Homo sapiens: one gene and its partners. The protein of the gene in region 1 purifies or fractionates together with the protein of each later gene. This does not show direct contact. Each region holds a gene or a part of one and is shown on either strand. Other genes may lie near its edges.

What was found. The genes of interacting proteins can lie anywhere in the genome.
Region 2: the proteins of KIFC1 (region 1) and RRP12 purify together in Homo sapiens (affinity purification with mass spectrometry, with the first as the bait; one large-scale study listed by BioGRID). This does not show direct contact.
Region 3: the proteins of KIFC1 (region 1) and TPX2 purify together in Homo sapiens (affinity purification with western blotting, with the first as the bait; one study listed by BioGRID). This does not show direct contact.
Region 4: the proteins of KIFC1 (region 1) and ASPM purify together in Homo sapiens (pull-down; one study listed by IntAct). This does not show direct contact.

The regions. Positions count from the first base shown.
Region 1 is NC_000006.12:33,398,323-33,401,822, reverse strand, and holds part of KIFC1 (kinesin-like protein KIFC1), read right to left. Parts: coding exon 3,436-3,500; intron 1,812-3,435; exon of another isoform or gene 1,179-1,811; intron 1-1,178. UniProt on the Homo sapiens protein: Minus end-directed microtubule-dependent motor required for bipolar spindle formation. May contribute to movement of early endocytic vesicles. Regulates cilium formation and structure.
Region 2 is NC_000010.11:97,373,841-97,377,340, reverse strand, and holds part of RRP12 (RRP12-like protein), read left to right. Parts: intron 1-3,446; coding exon 3,447-3,500.
Region 3 is NC_000020.11:31,780,790-31,784,289, forward strand, and holds part of TPX2 (targeting protein for Xklp2), read left to right. Parts: intron 1-1,459; coding exon 1,460-1,601; intron 1,602-2,915; coding exon 2,916-3,132; intron 3,133-3,500. UniProt on the Homo sapiens protein: Spindle assembly factor required for normal assembly of mitotic spindles. Required for normal assembly of microtubules during apoptosis. Required for chromatin and/or kinetochore dependent microtubule nucleation.
Region 4 is NC_000001.11:197,094,670-197,098,169, reverse strand, and holds part of ASPM (abnormal spindle-like microcephaly-associated protein), read left to right. Parts: intron 1-2,005; coding exon 2,006-2,172; intron 2,173-3,500. UniProt on the Homo sapiens protein: Involved in mitotic spindle regulation and coordination of mitotic processes.

The sequences.
Region 1 (3,500 bases):
GGCTGAGGCAGGAGAATGGTGTGAACCCAGGAGACGGAGCTTGCAGTGAGCCGAGATCATGCCACTGCACTCTAGCCTGGGCGACAGTGCGAGACTCCGTCTCAAAAAAAAAAAAAAAGGCAATCCAGAAGAAAGCATTGTTATCACAGGAAGTCACATCTCCATGTGTGTTACTGCCCCTGAAGATCTTCCAGTGAGACAAGATGTGGAGGTGAAAGCCAGTGATGTTGATGATCCTGACCCTATGTAGGCCTAGGCTAATGTGTATATTTCTTCGTTTTTAACAAAAAGTTTGAAAAGCAAAATAATATTTAAAATTTTTCAAATTTAAGCTTATTTCTTGGAAAAAATACAAATAAATAAAATTTTAAATTAAAAAAAGAATTTCAGGCGGGGCGCAGTAACTCATGTCTGTAATCCCAGCACTTTGGGAGGCTGAGGCGGGCGGATCACGAGGTCAGGAGATCGAGACCATCCTGACTAATACGGTGAAACCCCATCTCTACTAAAAATACAAAAAATTAGCTGGGTATGATGGCACACACCTATAGTCCCAGCTACTCGGGAGGCTGAGGCAGGAGAATCACTTGAACCCAGGAGGCGGAGGTTACACTGAGCCGAGATCACGCCATTGCACTCCAGCCTGGGCGAAAGAGCGAGACTCTGTCTCAAAAACAAAAAACAAAAAACAAAAATTTTATTTTCAAGCCAGGAGACAGAGATTCATATTGCCCTGAATATATGCTCCCCGCCCAAAACAAAATTTAGATAGAAAAAAAGCATGAGGAATAAGGATATAAAGGAATAAAATATTTCTGTAAAGCTATACAATGTTTGTGTTTTCAGTTGTTATTACAAGAGTCAAAAAGTTAGCCGGGCGCAGTGGCTCACGCCTGTAATCCCAACACTTTGGGAAGCTGAGGCAGGCAGATCACGAGGTCAGGAGATCGAGACCATCCTGGCTAACATGGTGAAACCCTGTCTCTATTAAAAATACAAAAAAACAAAATTAGCCAAGTGTGGTGGAGGGCGCCTGTAGTCCCAGCTACGCGGAAGGCTGAGGCAGGAAAATGGCGGGAACCCGGGAGGCGGAGCTTGCAGTGAGCCGAGATTGTGCCACTGCACTCCAGCCTGGGCGACAGAGCGAGACTCCATCTCAAAAAAAAAAGAGAGAGAAGCTCTCGGCTTTCGGCTCGGAGGAGGCCAAGGTGCAACTTTCTTCGGTCATCCTGAATCTGGGTTCATCCGACACCAGCTGCCTCCACCATGCCACCGAAGTTCGACCCCAACGAGATCAAGGTCGTATACCTGAGGTGCACCAGAGGTGAAGTCGGTGCCACTTCTGCCCTGGCCCCCAAGATCGGCCCCCTGGGTCTGTCTCCAAAAAAGGTTGGTGATGACATTGCCAAGGCAACGGGTGACTGGAAGGGCCTGAGGATTACAGTGAAACTGACCATTGAGAACAGACAGGCCCAGATTGAGGTGGTGCCTTCTGCCTCTGCCCCGATCATCAAAGCCCTCAAGAAACCACCAAGAGACAGAAAGAAACAGAAAAACATTAAACACAATGGGAATATCACTTTTGATGAGATCGTCAACATTGCTCGACAGATGCGGCACCGATCCTTAGCCAGAGAACTCTCTGGAACCATTAAAGAGATTCCGGGGACTGCCCAGTCTATGGGCTGTAATGTTGATGGCCACCACCCTCATGACATCATAGATGACATCAACAGTGGTGCTGTGGAATGCCCAGCTAGTTAAGCACAAAGGAAAATATTTCAATAAAGGATCATTTGACAACTGGTCGAAAAAAAAAAGTTAAAAAAAGATTAAAATGTTACATCAGCCTTGGCAAGTGGGAAAAAAAATGTTAAGTTTATAAAGTAAAATAGTTATAGTAAACTAAGGTTAATTTATTATAAAAGAACTATTTTTTATAAATTTGATGTAGCCTAACTGTACCATGTTTCTAAAGTCTACAGCAGTGTACAGTAAGGCCCTAGGCCTTCACATTCACTCACCACTCACTCACTAACTCACCCAGAGCAACTTCCATTCAAACATGCTCCATTTAATGGTTAGTACCCTGTACAGGTGTGCCATTTTTTATCATTTATATTATATTTTAACTGTACCTTTTCTATGTTTAGGTATGTTTATATACACAAATGGTTACCACTGTGTTATGTTACCTACCATGCTTCAGTATAGTAACACGCCACACAGGCTTGTTGCCCAAGAACAATAGGCTATCGCAGATAGCCTAGGTGTGTAGCAGGCTAGATCATCTAGGTTTCAGTAAGTACATTCTATGATGTTTCCACAATAATGCATTTCTGATAATGTATCTGCATTGCCAAGTGACACATGACCATAACTGTTATACTGTATTTTTTGGTTTTATTTTTTATTTTCCATGAATATTTTCTCATTTTTTTTTTTGAGACCGAGTCTCGCTCTGTCGCCAGGCTGGCACAATCTCGGCTCACTGCAACCTCCACCTCCTGGGTTCTAAGCAATTCTCCTGCCTCAGCCTCCAGAGTAGCTGGGATTACAGGCACGGGCCATCACGTCTGGCTAATTTTATATTTTTAGTAGAGACAGGGTTTCAACCATATTGGCCAGGCTGGTCTGGAACTCCGGACCTCAGGTAATCTACACACCTTGGCCCCCCAAAGTGCTGGGATTACAGGCATGAGCCACTGTGCCCACTCTCCTTGAATATTTTCAACCGATGGTTGGTTGAATCTGCAGAAGCAGAACCCACGGATACAGAGGGCCAACTGTACTCCATATGCCAAAAAGCAATTTGGATTAAGATAAGTAAAAGCAGGACCATGTCTAAAGTATGCCACCATTTATGTAAAAAAGGTGGGGGAGTATAGTCTTACTTGCTTGAATACCAATAGAATTTCCCTGGAAGAACACACAGTTGCCCTGGGTAGCAGAATTGGGTGGCTGGAGGACAGAAATAGGAAGCAAACTTCACTATACAACAACCTTTGTGCCTTTGGAATTTTGAACCAAATGAAATGTTATTACCTATTCAAAATAGGCTGGGTGCGGTGCCTCACACCTATAATCCCAGCACTTTGGAAGGCAGAGGCGGGTGGATCACCTGAGGTCAGGAGTTCAAGACCAGCCTGGCCAACATGGCGAAACCCCATCTCTACTGAAAAAAATACAAAAATTAGCTGGGCATGGTGTGGGCACCTGTAATCCCAGCTACTCGGGAGGCTGAGGTAGGAGAATCGTTTGAACCTGGGAGGAGGAGGTTGCAGTGAGTGAGATTGAGCCACTGCACTCCAGCCTGGGCGATAGAGCGAGACTCTGTCTCAAAAAAAATAAAATAAAATTGAAAGAAAAGAAACAAGTGAGTTGAAGAGCACTGGACTTCCATGTCCTTGGAGTCTATCCATCCTGAGAGCCCACCTGTGGTCTGGCCTTGTGTCTGTGGCACTGTAGTGAGGGATGGAACTCTTGGGTGGGATGTGGTA
Region 2 (3,500 bases), on another chromosome or scaffold:
TTCACCATGTTGGCCAGGCTGGTCTCAAACACCTGACCTCAGAAAATCTACCTGCCTCGGCCTCCCAAAGTGCTGGGAGTACAGGCATGAGCCACCATGGCCAGCCTGTCACACTACTTTTTAATGACAGAGTTATTGTGATAGAAATCATACGTACCGTGGGCTGGGCACAGTGGCTCACACCTGTAATCCTAGCACTCGGGGAGGCCGAGGTGGGTGGATCACCTGAAGTCAGGAGCTTGAGACCAGCCTGGCCAACATGATGAAACCCCATCTCTACTAAAAGTACAAAAATTAGCCAGGCATGGTGGTAGGTGCCTATAATCCCACCTACTCGGGAGGCTGAGGCAGGAGAACGCTTGGACTCTGGGGGGCGGAGGTTGCAGTGAGCCAAGATCGCACCACTTCACTCCAGCCTGGGCAACACAGCGAGACTCTGTCTCAAAAAAAAAAAAAAAAGAAAAGAAAGAAATTGTATGGCCTGCCGAGCTTAAAGTACTGGTCCTTTTGCACAAAAAGTTGGCTGACTCCTGGTCTAGGGCAGTGGTTCTCAACAAGGAGGGTGATTTTGCTGCCTGTAGGACATTCAGCAATGCCTGGAGACATTTTTGGTTGTTACCGTTGGGGGATGGGTGCTCTGGCATCTAGTGGGTAGAGGCCAGGATGCTGCTAAGCACCCTGCAATGCACAGGACGACCTCACACAACAAAGAGTACTAGGCCCAAAATGTCCACATTGTCAAGATTGAGAAACCCTGCTCTAGGGCAGTTTCCTGATTTCACACATGATCTTGTAGAATATACAGGAAGTGCTTAAAGAAGAAAGTAAGGCCAAGCGCAGTGGCTCGTGCCTGTAATCTCAGCACTTTGGGAGGCTGAAGCGGGCAGATCATGAGGTCAGGAGTTCGAGACCAGCCTAAACAACATGGAGAAACCCCGTCTCTACTAAAAATACAAAAATTAGCTGGGCATGGTGGCACGCACCTGTAATCCCAGCTACTTGGGAGGCTGAGGCAGGACAATCGTTTGCACCCAGGAAGCAGAGGTTGCAGTGAGCCGAGATGACACCACTGCACTCCAGCCTGGGAGACAGAGCGAGACTTCATCTCAAAAAAAAAAAAAAAAAAAAGAAAGTAAAAGTCATTCAGTCTTCCCACCCAGAAATTGTTACTACTCAAGTTTTTAATGTATTTTCCTTTGCTTTGTTTGGGTCGGTTTGTTTGTTTGTTTGTTTGTTTTGAGACAGAGTCTTGCTCTGTTGCCCAAGCTGGAGTGCAGTGGTGCGATCTTGGCTCACTGCAACCTCCACCTCCCAGGTTTTCAAGCAATTCTGCCTCAGCCTCCTGAGTAGCTTCGTCTACAGGCGTGTACCATCACCCCTCGCTAATTTTTTTATTTTTAGTAGAGACAAGTTTTCGCCATGTTGGCCAGGCAGGTCTCGGACTCCTGACCTCAAGTGATCCACCCGCCTTGGCCTCCCAAAGTGCTGGGATTACAGGTGTGAGCCACCATGTCTGGCTGCATTTTTTTCTGTGTAAAAATAGTATTGTATTTCTACTCTGTTGGAATTAATGTGCACATATTAGTAACTTAAAGTTTTTCCTGATATTAAAAAGGAAAAATTTGTTCTATTTTCAATAGAAATATATGCCCATCAAAGAAAATACAGATGAACCCCCAAAATGAGGGTCATTACCATCATTAATGTTACCTATAAACCCTGGCATTATTCTTAAGGCTGATGTTATGTATTCCCTTTGTCCTGGTAATACTACACGCAGGTATCTGTCCTGAGAAGATAGACAAGTGCGTACTGATTTATGTTCCTAGCAAAGACGTGCCTGACAGTATTGGCTTATACTGGCAAAAACTGTAACACATCTAGTATCTTTCTCATTAGGGTTCCAGTTAAATTAGTTATGGTAAAGCCCTACTTTTGGCCAGATGCAGCAGCTTACGCCTGTAATCCCAACACTCTGAGAGTCTGAGGCAGAAGGATTGTGTGAGGCCAAGAGTTCAAGAACAGCCTGGGCAACATAGCAAGACCCTGTCTCTATAAAAATTTTTTTTTTTTTTTTTTAGTTAGCCAGGTGTGGTAGGCTCACCTGTAGTTCCAGCTACTTGGGAGACTGAGGAAAGAGGATTTCTTGAGCCCAGAAGTTCAAGGCCAGCCTGGGCAACAGAGTGAGACCTCCGTCTCTACAAAAATATTTTTTAAGTCCCACTTTGGGATATGATGTAGGCATTATAAAGAAAGAAAGAAACCACTAGGTAGGGACAGACAAGTTTAGCAGATGGTGAGTCGAACAGACACGGTTTATATCCCAACTCCGCCGCTCCACAGTTCGTGGCTTGGGGCAGGTTTTGTTTAATTTCCCAGGGTCTGCTCCTCATCTTAAAATGGGCAAGTTTTGTGAGGATTAAATGAAAAAGTCATGTGAAGTGCTCATTACAGACTACCACATAGTACTTGCTCAGTAAATGTTACCAGCTTTATTGTCAAGTAAACAAGGTTACAGAATGCTATATATATAGTATATTCCTCCCTATGGTTTTTTTTTTTTTTTTTTGAGACAGAGTCTCGCTCCGTCACCCAGGCTGTTGTGCAATAGCACGATCTCGGCTCACTGCAAGCTCCACCTCCCGGGTTCACTCCATTCTCCTGCCTCAGCCTCCCGAGTAGCTGGGACTACAGGTGCCTGCCACCACTCCCGGCTAATTTTTTGTATTTTTAGTAGAGACGGGGTTTCACCATGTTAGCCAGGATGGTCTCAATCTCCTGACCTCATGATCTGCCCGCCTCAGCCTCCCAAAGTGCTGGGATTACAGGTGTGAGCCACTGCACCCAGCCCCTGTTTATGTTTTACAAAGTGGGCATGTGGCTGGGTGCAGTGTTGCACACCTGTAATCCCAGCACTTTGGGAGGCCGAGGCACATGGATCGCTCAAACTTAGGAATTCGAGACCAGTCTGGGCAACATGGTGAAACCCTACGTCTACAAAAAGTTAGGTGGGTGTGGTGGCATGCACGCCTGTAGTCTGCTTCTTGGGAGGCTGAGGTAGGAGGATCGCGTGAGCCTGGGAGGTCAAGGCTGCAGTGAGCCCAGATTGCGCCACTGTATTCCAGCCTAGGCCACAAAGTGAGACCCTGTCTCAAACAAAACAAACAAACAAAAAAAATTGGGCATGTGTTTAAAGAAGTATAAAAAAGTAACAAGAAACAGAGGCTATCTCTGGGGGAGTAAGAGTATGGAGAGACGTTTGCTTTCTGTTTATTATAGGTTCATTTGAGTATTTTAGAATGAACAAGTATGATTTAATTCATGGAGATGGGGGGAAGTCACCCATATTCCTGTCCTCATCATTGGGCTTTTGGTTTGGTTTGGTAAATAAGGCTGTTGGCCAGGAGGGTGCTGGGCTCACACTCTGTCCCTCTGTCACACTGCAGCCATGGACCTGGCTCAGGCAGGCAGCACAGTGGAATCTAAGATCTACGACACAC
Region 3 (3,500 bases), on another chromosome or scaffold:
TTAACATAGTTTTTAACTTTCTCCATTTGATTTTCTGTAAGATGTGGTCTTGATGCTTTTATATTGATTTCATAAAATTGGGAGTTTTCACTTGGTCTTCTTTTGTTATTTATTTATTTATTTATTTTCCTTCTTGTTTTGCTTTTTAGAGACAGGGTCTTGCTCCGTCACCCAGGCTGGAGTGCAGTGGCGTGATCATGGCTCACTTCAGTGTCCAACTCCTGGGCTCAAGCAATCCTCCTGCCTTAGCCTTCCAAGTAATTGGGACTATATATAGGTGCATGCCACCATGCTTACCTAATTTTTATATTTTCTTAGGAGACAGGGTCTCATTATGTTGCCCAGGCTGGTCTTGAGCTCCTGGCCTCAAGCAGTTCTCCTGCTTTGGCCTTCTAAATTGCTAGAATTACAGGTTTGAGCCATTCTGTTCAGGCTTTACTTGGTCTTTAGGAAGGCCTTATATCTTTTTTTTTTTTTTTTTTTTTGAGACAGAGTCTCGCTCTGTCGCCTAGGCCAGAGTGCAGTGGCGCTCATTTGGCTCACTTGGCTCACTGCATGCTCCGCCTTCCAGGTTCATGCCATTCTCCTGCCTCAGCCTCCCGAGTAGCTGAGACTACAGGCGCCTGCCACCACGCCCGGTTAATTTTTTGTATTTTTAATAGAGACGGGATTTCACCGTGTTAGCCAGGATGGTCTCGATCTCCTGACCTCGTGATCCCCCTGCCTCGGCCTCCCAAAGTGCTGGGATTACAGGCGTGAGCCACTGTGACCGGCCAGGAAGGCCTTATATCTTAAAGCTGGAATAAGCAAAAATTTTTTGTGTTAATAACAAGCAAAATAATTGGCATTGTCAATAGAAAGTATAGGCCTGGCCAGGCACAGTGGCTTAACGCCTATAATCCCAGCACTTTGGGAGGCTGAGGTGGGTGGATTGCTTGAGCCCAGTAGTTCAAGACCAGCCTGGGCAACATAGTGAAACCCTGTCTCTACAAAGAATATAAAAATTAGCTGGGCATGGTGGTGCATGCCTGTAATCCCAGCTGCTTGGGAGGCTGAGGTGGGAAGATCACCTGAGTCCAGGGAGGTTGGATTTGTAGTGAGCCTTTATGCCCCTGCACTCTAGCCTGGGCAACAGAGTGAGACCCTGTCTCAAAAAAAAGAAAGTCAGTCTAGGCCCGTGCAGTGATAAGGAACCTGTCAGACATGGATGGATTTTCAGTTCAGAAGATGACAGTAGAGTTTACCCAAAGGCTACCTTAGTCATACCCCTCAATAAAAGAGGAATAGGGGAGAAGTAACTGAATGTTGGTTGGTTTGACCAATGTAAGCTGAGCTGACTGTTGTGGGCCCACCACTCTGTGGTTGGTTTATCCCTCTCTGGGCTACATAGGTGAATCACCACTTACAAGTAAACTGGGTCTTGCGGATCTAGATGAACATCTGTCATCTCTGTTTACAGACCTGTTACCCTCCAAATCTTCTGTGACCAAGATTTGCAGAGACCCACAGACTCCTGTACTGCAAACCAAACACCGTGCACGGGCTGTGACCTGCAAAAGTACAGCAGAGCTGGAGGCTGAGGAGCTCGAGAAATTGCAACAGTAAGTCCCACTGGCAGTATCTGAGGAAGAGTTCCACGAACCTGCCTACTTTATTTTCAGTTCTGTTAGGGTGACAGTTGCTATTTTTCTTTCCGTAAAAATTTATGGCATTTGAGTAGTAGGCTCTGCAGGCTACGCCCCTGCCTATATGATTTAAGGACTATAGTGGGAATATGGAGATGTTCTGGAGTATAAACTGGTAAAAATTGAATCCAGGCTGGGTGTGGTGGTTCACACCTGTAATCCCAGTACCTTGGGAGGCCGAGGCAAGAGGATCACTTGAGTCCAGGAGTTTGAGACCAGCCTGGGCAACATGGTGAAACCCCATCTCTACAACAAATACCAAAAAAAAATTAGCTGGGCATGGTGGCATGCGTCTGTAGTCCCACCTACTAGGGGGCAGCCTGAACCCAGGAGGTCAATGCTTCAGTGAGCCAAGATCACGCCAATATACTCCAGCTTGGGTGACAAAGCGAGACTGTCTTGCACATACACACATACACACACACACACACACACACACACACACACACACACACACAAAATCTAATCCAGAGGTTGCAGTAGAAGAACTTACTTAGGATTTCAATTAAGGAATGCCCTCTAAGGTTAAGTTAGGTAGATCCCACCCTTTTGTGACTCCCCAAGGGATTGTTACAGCTATTATTAGTGGAGGGAAATGGAAACTTAGTGTGATTCGTAGCATTGGAGTTTATTTCCTGTATCCTTCTTCCATTCCTTTTTGTGCTTCTTTTGAGGAGGGGGAGCTTCTTCTGTGAAGTGAAGCCTCAATTCTTAAGTGGTAGGGATGTTAGGACTGTCTGATTTATTCTTTCTTCTTTTATTCTTTTATTATTTTTTATTTATTTATTTTTTTTGAGATGGAGTTTCGCTCTTGTTGCTCAGGCTGGAGTGCAGTGGTGCCTCTAAGCTCACTGCAACCTCCGCCTCCTGGGTTCAAGAGATTCTCCTGCCTCAGCCTCCCTAGTAGCTGGGATTACAGGTGTGCACCACCACGCCCAGCTAATTTTTGTATTTTTAGTAGAGATGGGGTTTCACTGTGTTGGCCAGGCTGGTCTTGAACTCCTGACCTCAAATTATCTGCTCACCTTGGCTTCCCAAAGTGCTGGGATTACGGGCATGAGCCACCGTGCCTGGCCCATTGTTTTTCGTTTTTATTTATTTTATTCTGTTGTCCAGTCAATGGGAGCATAATCTTAATGATTACTATTCTTTGTGGTTGGCTTACTTTGTTTGTGAAGTTTTCATTTTATTAAAATTTTTTTTGTGGTTATTTAAATTTTCACCTTACAGATACAAATTCAAAGCACGTGAACTTGATCCCAGAATACTTGAAGGTGGGCCCATCTTGCCCAAGAAACCACCTGTGAAACCACCCACCGAGCCTATTGGCTTTGATTTGGAAATTGAGAAAAGAATCCAGGAGCGAGAATCAAAGAAGAAAACAGAGGATGAACACTTTGAATTTCATTCCAGACCTTGCCCTACTAAGATTTTGGAAGATGTTGTGGTAAGGTTGAGGCTATGTGTGCTGGCAGAAGTGTACTGCTCATGACCAGATATCCACCCATTCACACAAAAGTTTGGGTAGATATTATGAGCAGGGCATCATATTAGGAACTGCAGGTGATAAAGAGACTTATCGGAAGTGGATTTTGCTTTTAGTTAACTCAAAGTCTGGTATGGGAGACAATATATGTGTGAATAATAGAAAATGGACAGAAGTGTTCTGAGAGAGATGACAGTTAAAATAGGAATTCAGAGGAGAAAATGGTTTCTTCCAGATAGAAAGTTCAGGGTGTGCTTTGTAGAGAGGCACATTTGACCTGAGCCTTGACGATGTACTGTAGTAATAGTTATTGTGTTGCTATTGTTGTC
Region 4 (3,500 bases), on another chromosome or scaffold:
TTGGGATTTAAGCACACTTTGTTTCTTCTCTCAACCCTTGGTTTCTTGATACCATAATCTCTTAGCTGTCTTCTTTCCCTCTTAACGCTATGTTGGCTTCTCTTGTCAATGTCTGTAAATTTTGATGTTCTTCAGGTGTGATGTGTGTGTGTGTATATATATATATATTTGTAAATATATATATACACACACGTATATCTATACATATATATAATTTTCTCATTAAAACTTTGTTTTAATGGGTCTCAAAATTCTGTGACAGATTTTCGGTCAATTTGTTTTCATTAAAAAGTACTGATTTTAAAAACTAGTAACTTATAACTGCCACAAGCAAAACAAAAACAAAAACACCAAAATGGTCCACAAAACATTCTCCTTTCCTCCTGAAGGTTTTATGATGCAGTGTTACCATTAACCAGTCTTTTACTGTTACAGTTAAATGGCCAATTGAAACAAACAGTTCTGAGACCATTCTTCTACCACTGATTAAGACTGAGGTGGCAGGTATTGGGGATATACATAAATAATGTATGCAGATTTACATAAAAACCGTATACAATATAGTCTGAATGAGTTAAGGTCATCTCAGAGTAATTTTGGCCATATATAATTATTGCATTATCAACTGAATTTAGAACCTAATCTAAATATACGTTGTGCCTATAGTATTTGTTGTGCTGCGGGATAATTAAGGAATCAGAGAGACCGAGGGATTTGAGGAGGAATTATTTAATTATTTATGTGCACCGACCCAGTCGGATTAACATCCAAAGAGGACTGAGCCCTGAACAAAGAGTCAAGCTACCTTTTAAGCATTTCGTGGGGCATGGGGAGATCTGTGCAGGGGGAAGCGTATTACAGAAGAGAGAAACAAAGACAGTTATTCAAGTAAGAGATGCATTACATTATTTCTTACTTTTTAAGGAACAACATGTTTTACAACTTGAGATTATCTGTCTAGTGTCCTTGCAGCTGCACAGCTAGAGAAACAGTCTTCACAATGCCTGGGAAAGGGAGAGATAAGGCTCACTAGCCACAGAGAGAAAAACACAGTTAATTTTAAAGGACTCCAGCCCTTTCTCTTCCCAAGGGGAATTGGGTTTTCTTACATACAACTGAGTTTTTGCTTACACAGTCTTTAATTTCTTTTAATTCCTCTTCCTGTAGGGATGTTGGAGTCAAATAGACTTGGGTTCAAATCTTGACTCTGTCACTTAACAGCTATATGCTAACAAGTCCTTCTTAATTTCAATTTTGGATTTTTTTCCTTTTTTATAAAACAGAGATCTTAACCATTTTATAAGATATTTATAAATATTAAGTAAGACAACTCTGCCACTTATTAACCTGTGTGACATCAACAAGTTACTCAATTTCTCTAGGCCTTGATTTCCTCATCTCTAAATTAGAGATAATAGTATTATCTACCCATGTGATTATTAAGGACTAATCTTCTTAGTGCTTAGTTCAATAAGTTGTAGCTGTCATGTAAACCTTTAGTCTTCCAGAAGGTTGTCAAAATCAGAAAGTCTGACAGTCCTATCACAGGAGCTCTCAGGATTCTCCTGCAGGCTGAACACAGAACCCAAAGTGAATATGGATTGGGAAGAATTCCTCTTTCTCCCCAGAACCTGCAGTAGGTCAATGTGTTCATTTTCTTTTCTTCCAAATGGATTGAGGTGATGAGGATAATTTACATAATGTGGGGCTTTTCAGACATGTGTGTCTTACAATTTATAAATACTGGTTAGGGTTTTGTTAGGCTGGGCTGGCAGCCAGCCATAAGGTATGTGTGATAAAGCACATAATACGTGTTCACTATAGTAAGCACCACTGTTCTCAGAAGACTCATTACATGTCAAAGTCTAAAAGAGTCATGATATGACTATGCAATTTATTTTTGTCTGCACTAACCTTATTTTAACTGTCTTTATACTGATTTGTCTTATTTACAAAAAAAAAGAGACAACTCATTGCATACTTGTTATATTTATGTATTTAATAGGCTATGTGGAGGAGATATAGAGCCAAGAAATATTTATGTAAAGTGAAAGCTGCCTGCAAGATTCAAGCCTGGTATAGATGTTGGAGAGCACACAAAGAATATCTAGCTATATTAAAAGCTGTTAAAATTATTCAAGGTTGCTTCTATACCAAACTAGAGAGAACACGGTAATGTATCATAGTTCTGTGGAGAGTGTAAAAGTATTTGTGTGTGATAGCTAAGTCTTTACATAAAATAACACTGCTTATTGATTTTTATTTTAAATATTTGTTATGCTTAATTTATATGGTTGGTTTTGTTGATATTTTCTTTATTAAGGAAACAAAATACATCTCTCGTACTGTCTTGCTTTTTTGAGATAGAGCATAGCCTTTAATTAATATAATCTAAAAATATTATATACTTGATTAATTCAGGTTCATAAGGATTAGAGTAAGGACAGAGACGTAGGAAGTGAATAAAATCATTTAGTTAAGACTTGGTTTTCTTATTAGTGCTTTGGGCCATTTTGCTGGGTGACTTAACTACTGGCAAAATTTGTTTTCTTACTCATTCTTTTTTTCTTTGAACTTTGTATTATTCCTCATACTCTTTGTCATTAATGATGAAGACCCTAATTACCAACCTGTCTATGCTAATTGTATTTCACTATTCCTAGCTTATTTCTCACACACACATTTTCAGAAGCTGTTACCAGATCATCTTTTTTTAAGTTCATAGTATAAGAATTTTTCTTCAGCTCCCAGAGTTGATGAATTATTGAATCAATGATGGTTTTAAAGATGGTTTAGGAAGGCACACTAGTGTGAGAGGAATTTTTGGATGAAGCCCATGGGTAGAAGCAGGGCTTAACATATACAGTTGATCGCATGAAGATAGAAGTAGAATGTTGGTTACCAGAGGCTAGGATAGGGAGAGGGGAGGGGTGGATAACGACAGGCTGGTTAATGGGTACAAAAATACAGTGAGAAGGAATAAGATTTACTGTTTAGTAGCACAATAGGGCAACTATAGTTAACAATAATTTATTGTATATTTCAAAATAACTAGAGGAATAGAATTAGAAGTTTCCTAATAGAAGGAAATGATAAATGTTCGAGGTGATGGATATCCCATTTACCCTGATTTGATCATTACTCATTGTGTGCTTGAATCAAAATATCACATGTACTCTGTAAATATTTACAACTATTATATATCCATAAAAATAAAAATTAAAAAGCATATAAAGATACAGTTGCTACTATCAGCTATTAAGGACCAGTATCTAATTTTCCTGTAACAGATGCTGAATTTTTCTCAATGGTGTTTGGTCCTATTTTCTAAGAAACATGGCAACAAAACAAGCTACTCATTGTACTTTTTCCACATTATCAAGAACAGAGTAGAAAACCTGTCCATTCTCACATTTTATCTCTTAGTATTATGTTGATCCCTAAAATTTAATCTCTAGTGCTCAGATTTTTTAAAATTTTTCTCCAGTTCTGTTTACGAA